Homo sapiens: one gene and its partner. The protein of the gene in region 1 interacts with the protein of each later gene in a pairwise test. Each region holds a gene or a part of one and is shown in the gene's direction. Other genes may lie near its edges. The genes, in order: ZNF614 and NFIX.

Region 1 (4,595 bases):
TCACCTTCCTTGTCCCGTGAATCAGCACAGCCTGCCACGGCAAAGTTTTATCAGCCCACTCCTGGAAATGATCAGTGAAGGTCCCATCATGGGCTGCTCATAGTCCTGTGGACCAGGTGCTAAACTTACCTACCAGAGATTAACATTCCAGATGAACGGGGCTGAAATTTAATCCTGGATGGAATATGTTATAACACTCAAGAAATACGAACATGAAATTCTTATTCTCTAGAAATTACAAAACGTAAGTAAAATGAAGAAATTTTAAGTCACCATAATTGTACGGAACAGTCAAATATTGTTAGTATATTCTCCAGAATTTTTCAAATGCATGAGCATATTTATTTTCTGAAAGAAAACAGCCTATTTTGCATTTATCATGCCATGAACTTATTATACATCATCATACCTATTTTCTAAGATCAACATGTTTTATAATATATTCATGATTATGGTACAAAGATAGTAAAATTAAGTATAAATTGGGAATATTTTTCAAGTAAAAACATGGCATTCTCTACCTATGAACACAAACAATATTAATTCAAACTAAATGTCTTGTTTAACCAATCACAATTTTCCAAAAGATGTTTATGATTTCTTCCAATAACAAGACCATAAAATATATACTATCCTGCAGATCATTTTTTTGTCCTCTGACAAAGTTTTCTTTTTTATAAAACAATTGTAGCATATTCTTTTAAATTGATATATACTCTTACAGTTCAGCAGATGTTCCATAATTTACCAAAGTATTCATCTCTCATTGTAATTCCCTTTTTTTGTAAATTACAAAAGTTGTGGTTAATATTAAGACAGATTTGCCTAGATAGCTTTTAGAATTGCTGTGTCAAAGAAAACGAAAAAATTAAATTGGCTCTAGGTTGCCTTCCAAAAATACAATATTTACTTAAATCTTCTACAGTTACAACGCCAACATCTGCAAAAATAGAACTAATATTTTTTAAGTGTGACTTTTTAAAAAATCTGGAAACATTGCAAAGTAGGATGATCGCATTCTAATAATTTCATATTCTTAAGTGCCCCACTGTCATCTTCCTTTACTTCTGGAAGGAAACATGTAGATATTAACACAGTTGCACCTTCACCTCCTCATCCCCTTCCCCACTGGCAGTGGTTTTAATAGCAAGCCCCATGTGGGTATTAGCATTTAATGGAGCATCACTCCTGTTCTCGGCTTCGTCCATTCAGTCAGAGTCTAATCTAACCCACAAAAGCCTTACCCAGCCCAGAACCCCCGCCCTATCCCCAAATCTAACACTTTCAGTGACCACTGGTTTTGGCAACTCTGTGACCGCTTCCTGGCCAGCACCGTGACTTCTTCAAACCTTGTTTATTTTTCCAAATTGTCCTGGATATGAGCATCTTCTCTGCCGTACGGCTGCTGCCTTCCTCTAAGATGGCCGTGCCCATGGTGCTCCAGCTAAGGCTCCACTCTCAGCTATAATGGGCACAAAGGGCGCCGCCATCTTTTTTCCACAGCAGGCTGAATAGAATGCCACTGCGCCGTGTTGGCCTTGGCTGGGCACCCGACTCTTGAGTGTCCCTTGCAACGAAGAGAGAAAGGCACTGAGGTGACTAAGAGTGATTCCCACAGCCATTATGGCCGCTCCTGTCAGAAACGCTGCGATGGGCGCAGCCCTGTGACCTCATAGAGCGGCGCCCGCAGTCTGAACTCGCGATCCCGGGCAGGCTCCGTGGTCCTCGCCTCGCTTCACGGTCTTTACCGCTCAGCTTCCCGGAGTCCGCGCAGGAGCGCGTCTGAATAGGAAGCGTTTTCGGACGTGGATGCGGCGTTTTGTCGCTGCCAGTGGTGTCTGGAGAGGTTCGGGCTCGGGTGAGTCGAGTTCTGGGCATGGACTCGCGGCCTGTGGGTCTGTGTACCGATGGTGCGTGGAGCGTCCTGATTGGGGCTGTATTTGAACGCAGTCGCTGAGGAAGCGGGGCGTTAATGACGGGTCCTTTGGCTGTAGGGATGAAGAGTCTGAGGAAATCAGCGACGAGTCCGACTCTGTCTGGGTCTGGGGCCCTTGTGAGTCACCCTTTACGGGTGTTGGGCTGGGGGACGGTCAGGTCTTTCCCTTCCCATGAGGCCCTATCTCAGGCTATCACATGGGATATTATCTTTCCTGAAGAATATAACATGTGCTCTTGAAAAAAATGTTTATTTTACTGCTGTTGAGTGCAGTGTTAAATGTTCGTTAAGTCTAGTTGGTTGATAATGTTGTTCAAGTTTTCGGTATCCTTGCTGAGTTTCTATTTGTTTTCTTTATTATTGCAAGTAGGGTAATGTAGTCTTCAATTATTATTGTTGAATTGTCTAATCCTCTCTCATTCTGTTTTGCTTCATACGTTTTTAAATTATCATATTCTTATATATACACCCTTATATTATTATTGCCAGCCATTGTAACCATTGTTGCCACTCACCTAGGCCTTGGTGTCCAGAGTTTTATTGGATATCAGTTAACACACACACACACAATTGACTGCCTATGAGGCTGACTTCAATCTCCAGCTCCTCCAGATATCAAACTAATACCACGTGGTCCAAGGTCTCCCACAGTAAATCACATTATTAGGATAGACAATTTGGCATGGCTTAAATTGCCCTGATAACCAAAGACAGTTTTATCAAGCAGCGTATTCCAAAGGCTTAGAGTTTGCCTCATAGGAACTGTGGGCAAAGGACAAAGCTCTCTTGGGTAAAGTTACTCCTTTAGCGCATAATGTGAAATGAGACAGTTCTTGTGATTTGCTTAGTACATTGGTCTTGACACGAGGTATGTATACCCAAAGAGCTTACAGAGACTTTCGAACCAGTACATGGGCACACGTGGTTTTTAAAGACATTCTTGGAGCCTTCCATGTGTTCTCTTTCCTAAAATTGATCTGTCTGAGAATTCACCTTGAAGGGGGCCACCCCTCCACAACCTGTGGGTGTTTCTTGTCAGGTGGGATGAGAGACTGAGAAAAGAAATAAGAGACAAAGTATAGAGAAAGAAAAGTGGGCCCAGGAGACCAGCACTCAGCATACGGAGGACCCACGCTGGCACTGGTCTCTGAGTTCCCTCAGTATTTATTGATCACTATCTCTACCACCTCGGAGAGGGGGATGTGGCAGGACAATAAGGTAATAGTGGGGAGAGGGTCAGCAGGAAAACATGTGAACAAAGGTCTCTGTGTCATAAATAAGTTTAAGGAAACGTGCTGTGCCTTGATGTGCACGCACACAAACATTTCGGTACAATAAAGAGCAGTATTGCCACCAGCATGTCTCACCTCCAGCCCTAAGGCGGTTTTCTCCTATCTCAGTAAATAGAACAGACAATGGGGTTTTACACGGAGACATTCCATTCCCAGGGACGAGGAGGAGACAGATGCCTTTCTCTTATCTCAACCGCAAAGAGGCCTTCCTCTTTTACTGATCCTCCTCAGCAGAGACCCTTTACAGGTGTCGGGGTAGGGGACGGTCAGGTCTTTCCCTTCCCACGAGGCCATATCTCAGGCTATCATATGGGGAGAAACCTTGGACAATACCTGGTTTTCCTAGGCAGAGGTCCCCGCGGCCTTCCGCAGTGTATTGTGTCTCTGGGTAGTTGAGATTAGAGAATGGTGATGACTTTTACCAAGCATACTGCCTTCAAGCACGTTTTTAACAAAGCACATCCTGCACAGCCCTAAATCCATTAAACCTTGAGTCAACACAGCACATGTCTCTGCTAGCATAGGGTTGGAGCTAGGGTTACAGATTAACAGCATCTCAAGGCAGAAGAATTTCTCTTAGTACAGAACAAAATGGAGCCTCTTATGTCTACTTCTTTCTGCATAGACACAGTAACAGTCTGATCTCTCTTTCTTTTCCCCAGACACCTGCCTCTGAGGCATTGTGCTGTGCTGGTTCTGCTTTCCCACCTTCTCTATAATAGTCATGCCACTTCTACTTCACAAAAGAAAGGCATAGATTTCACACATTTAGAACCATGAAAACCTCTGAGGCAGCAAATAAAGGAACTGTTAGAAATATTAGGGTCTTTTATTTAAGGTAAGTGCAGAGCAGCAGTGACAATGTCTGGACCCAGGGTTAATGTACACTGAAAGCCATTTTGTTTATCAGTCCTCAGGTCCTGGCTCCCAGAAGCAAAATAACTCAAGTGAAGCAATGAAGGAAGAAGAAGGAGGTTGCTGGCCTTGGATATCATAATTTCTGGGGACAACTTTAAGTGGACACTAATATTTCTGACTAGGAAAACTTCAAAAACTTCATGGCAAATGCAGAAGAGACAAAGACGTATAGTCCATGTTATCCACTATTTTCTGAGCACAGAAGAAAATGATCAAGACCCAGGTGATATTTTCCCTTTGATTTTTTGATAGATTTATGGTGGCCTGAAGAAGTCAGTTGAACTTAAGGAAGTATATACTGGGATAATTGTGTTCTAGGGAGAAATTAACTTACATTGCTTTTGGGAGTAGAGGTGGGGGTTCATTCTGCCTTAAGAAGTAGATTCTGGATCGCTTGAGCTCAGGAGTTCAAGACCAGCCTGGGCAACATGGTGAAACCCCGTCTCTAC
Region 2 (3,813 bases), about 39 Mb from region 1:
ACCCGCTGCCTGTGCTTGCTGGAGTCAGACCAGGTGAGAAATGGGGGGCCCCGGAGGGGGGCAGTTGGGGAGGTGGCTGAGTATCTAGGGGCAGCTGGCCAGGTGAAGGGGCCAGAGCTGACCCCGAGTGACAGCCCCACGCTCTCCAAGTGGGCCAAGGTGCAGCAGCGGGTGGGCATGGGAGCCGGCCCCTGCTTCACGTAGCACCTCATCGAGGACCAGGCCGGGCCCCTGGGCTGCCCACCTGGCTCCTGAGCAACCTCCCACTTCTCACTCCTCACGTGCATGGGTGCTACATACAACACAAGCCTGTCCCGAGTCCTCCCCAACTCTGGCCCAGTTCTCCTTTTGTCCTGCCAGCTGTGAGCGGGAAGGCACAGCCTTCTGCTCTGCCTTCCTGCCGGCTCCTCTCTCCCAGCTCCTGGCTGAGCCCAGGCTCTGGATTTTTGCCAGCATGAGCCCAGGTTGATGTGGGGCCTGGATGGAGAAGAGTACTCCTAAGGAGCCCAGGCTCCTGCGGCAAGTAGCTACCTTGTCTGGGCCTCCCTGCCGCTTTCTAGAAAGGAAGGGCTGGGTCTAGGGGACAGGTGGTACCTGGGCTGCTCCCCAGGAAAAGGAACTGCCCACTGCCGTGGGGCTGCTCTCTGACTTCAGTGTCCCAGTTGAGAAGGTGCTCAGGATGAGAACACCTAGATCGCCCTGAGGAGATAGGATCAGGCAGGAGGCTGTGGGAGCTGAGACCTCAGCCCTGTCACTCCTTCACTTTCTTCTTCCCTCTCTGGGCACCCACCTGGCAGCAAGAGGCCTGGACTTTTTCTGGATATGGCCCTATGTCCGCCTGCCATCTCCTGGGCTCGTATGTAGGACACAGAAAATGAGGAGGTTTACCTCCTGGCTTCCTCCTTGGGGCCTCCTGGCTGGGAGCCCAGAGGCAGCCGGTGCTGGGGCAGGGTGTGGTGGCCGCGAGGTGGGGGTGGGGAGCCCAGGCCCTCTACACAGGCAGCAGGAGGGCGCAGGCCTGGCTCCTCCGGCTCCACCTCAGCTTTTATGAACTCCAGAGAGAAGCCAAGTTTCCTCAGCCCCCTAATGAAACCGAGAGCAAGAGCGAGCTGATTGGAAACAGACGGGAGGAGGAAGAGCTGGGGCCTGCTCTGGGTTGGGAATTGCGTGTGCAAGGACGCGTATGTGAGGACACGTGTGTGAGTGATGAGGCTGAGCACATGAGAACACCGCCTAGGTGGCGGTGGCTGGGTGCACACCAGCTCGCACTCAGGAGATGTGTGTGCATATGTCAGACGGCCATCCTGAGCAGATGCTGGCTTTGTCTTCATCCAGAGCCCCAGGGAACCCTCTGCCTCCTCTTGTCCCCCACCCAGTCTCCCACCCAGGGCCTGAATTAAGGCAGGGCTAGTGAGGCACTCACCTTAGGTGCAGAGTGTCAGCAAGTATCAAAAACTCAGTCATCAAGATAAATAATATTTTAATGGAATATGTTTTAAAATCCAAACTATTGCAAAAAAAAGGGTATGGTAAGCAAACACCAGTTTTTTTGTTTGTTTTTCTTTTTCTTTTTTCAAAGACAGTTTCCTGCTCTATTACTCAGGCTGAATGCAGTGGCACGATTATAGCTCACTGAAGCCTTGAACTCCCAGACTCAAGTGATCCCTCCTGTGTGCCACCCTGGCTAATTTTTAAATGTTTGTTGTAGAGACGGGGTCTTGTTATGTTTCCCAGGCTGACCTCCAACTCCTGGATCAAGTGATCCTCCCACCTTGGCCTCCCAAAGCACTGGGATTACAGGTATGAGCCACAGCACTCAGCCATGTCTTTGTTTAAAATGGTTTAAAATGTTGAGGCTGGGCACAGTGGCTCATGCTTGTAATCCCTGTACTTTGGGAGGCCAAGGCAGGAAGACTGCTTGAGGCCAGGAGTTCGAGGCTGCAGCGAGCTGTGATCATGCCACTGCACTACAGCCTGGATGACAGGGCGAGATCCTGTCTCTATTTAACAGATACTGGCTGGGCGCGGTGTCTCACGCCTGTAATCCCAGCACTTTGGGAGGCTGAGGTGGGCGGATCACAAGGTCAGGAGATCGAGACCATTCTGGCTAACACGGTGAAACCCTGTCTCTACTAAAAATACAAAAAATTAGCCGGGCGTGGTGGTGGGCGCCTGTAGTCCCAGCTACTCGGGAGGCTGAGGCAGGAGAATGGCGTGAACCCGGGAGGCAGAGCTTGCAGTGAGCTGAGATCGCACCACTGCACTCCAGCCTGGGTGAGAGAGCGAGACTCAGTCTCAAAAAAAAAAATTCTTTAGGCTGGGCACAGTGGCTCATGCCTGTAATCCCAGCACTTTGGGAGGCCAAGGCAGGCAGATCACTTGAGCCCAGGAGTTTGAGATTAACCAGGACAATATGGCAAAATCTCATCTCTAGAAAAAAAAAAAAGCAAAAATCTACCAGGCCTGGTGGCGTGCACCTGTAGTGCTGGTTACTTGGGGGGCTGAGGTGGGAGGATTGCATGAGCCCAGGAGGATTGCTTGCCGTGATCCGTGTTTGTGCCACTGCACTCCAGTCTGGATGACAGAGCGAGACCCTGTCTCAAATAATAATAATAACACTTTTTTAAAAAGCCAAATAAAATAAAGACAAGATCCTACCCTGCCTCATCTGCCTCATCCTAATCTCCCAGCGCTGGTTGTGATCAAACTTTATTTACAAAAACAAATGGCTGGCCTTTGGACCCTAGTTTGCCTATTTGATTATTATTATTATTATTATTTTTGTATTGCATTAAAACATCATGGATCCTGATGACTGACTTTTTTGTGCCGCCTTAACTTTTGTGCCTGTGGCGGCTGCCTTACCTGCTCAGGATCCTCAGGACCCTCTGACCGGCAGCTCCCCTCCTCTCCTGTCCCTCCCACTGGCTGCCTCCTTGGCCCTGACGCCCTTTTTTCCCTGCCCACGTGCATGCAGGGAGCCCCCGGGCCACAGCATCAGCCCTGCACTTCCCCTCCACGTCCATCATCCAGCAGTCGAGCCCGTATTTCACGCACCCGACCATCCGCTACCACCACCACCACGGGCAGGACTCACTGAAGGAGTTTGTGCAGTTTGTGTGCTCGGATGGCTCGGGCCAGGCCACCGGACAGGTGAGTCCAGAGGGCCCCAGGAGCCCGGCTACAGCCTCATCTCCACATCTATCTGTCTGTCTCAGGGCTCACAGGGAGAGGGCCCAAAAGCCAGGAGCCCACCTGGGGCTGGAGCAGCAGGGAGCTGGTAGTACCAAACGCCTCGATTTTCTGGGTCTGGGGACGGGGGTCTGTGTATTATGCCAGGGCTTGTCTATCATGGTCCGGAGAGGTGGGGGCAGCATCTGGGCCCCCTTGCTCAGTCAGGCTCCTTGCCTTTCCCATGGTCCTTGCCCCCTCAGCAGGAGTGAACTCATGATGATCCAACCCGGATCTGGGCCCTGACCTCCCAGCGCTCCTCTTAAACCTCGGGGCTGCAAGGATTTGCTAGATTCTAGACCAGGGTTTCCCCAGTATCAGCACTGTTGACATTTGGGGCTGTTTATTCACTATTGTGTGAGACCATCCAGTGCTCTGTAGGATGTTGAGCAATATCCCTGGCCTCCACCTGCTAGATGCCAGGAGCACCTCCTCCTCCCCAGTCTTGATAATAAAAAAAAGTCTCCAGATTTCAGTGTGCCCAGGAGGGGAAGACCATCCCTAGTGAGGAGCACTGTGTCAAGGGAAAGCCCCGATCCACATAGCTGCCACGGAGACTCCTGCTGGCAGGACTTTTAACAA

What was found.
Region 2: the proteins of ZNF614 (region 1) and NFIX interact in binary tests that used the Homo sapiens proteins (3 or more experiments, as listed by UniProt).

Annotation. Positions count from the first base shown.
Region 1 is NC_000019.10:52,025,505-52,030,099, reverse strand, and holds the start of ZNF614 (zinc finger protein 614), read left to right. Parts: upstream 1-1,720; 5' UTR 1,721-1,858; exon of another isoform or gene 1,859-2,988; intron 2,989-3,561; exon of another isoform or gene 3,562-3,701; intron 3,702-4,138; 5' UTR 4,139-4,354; coding exon 4,355-4,369; intron 4,370-4,595. UniProt on the Homo sapiens protein: May be involved in transcriptional regulation.
Region 2 is NC_000019.10:13,078,703-13,082,515, forward strand, and holds part of NFIX (nuclear factor 1 X-type), read left to right. Parts: coding exon 1-33; intron 34-2,977; coding exon 2,978-3,153; intron 3,154-3,813.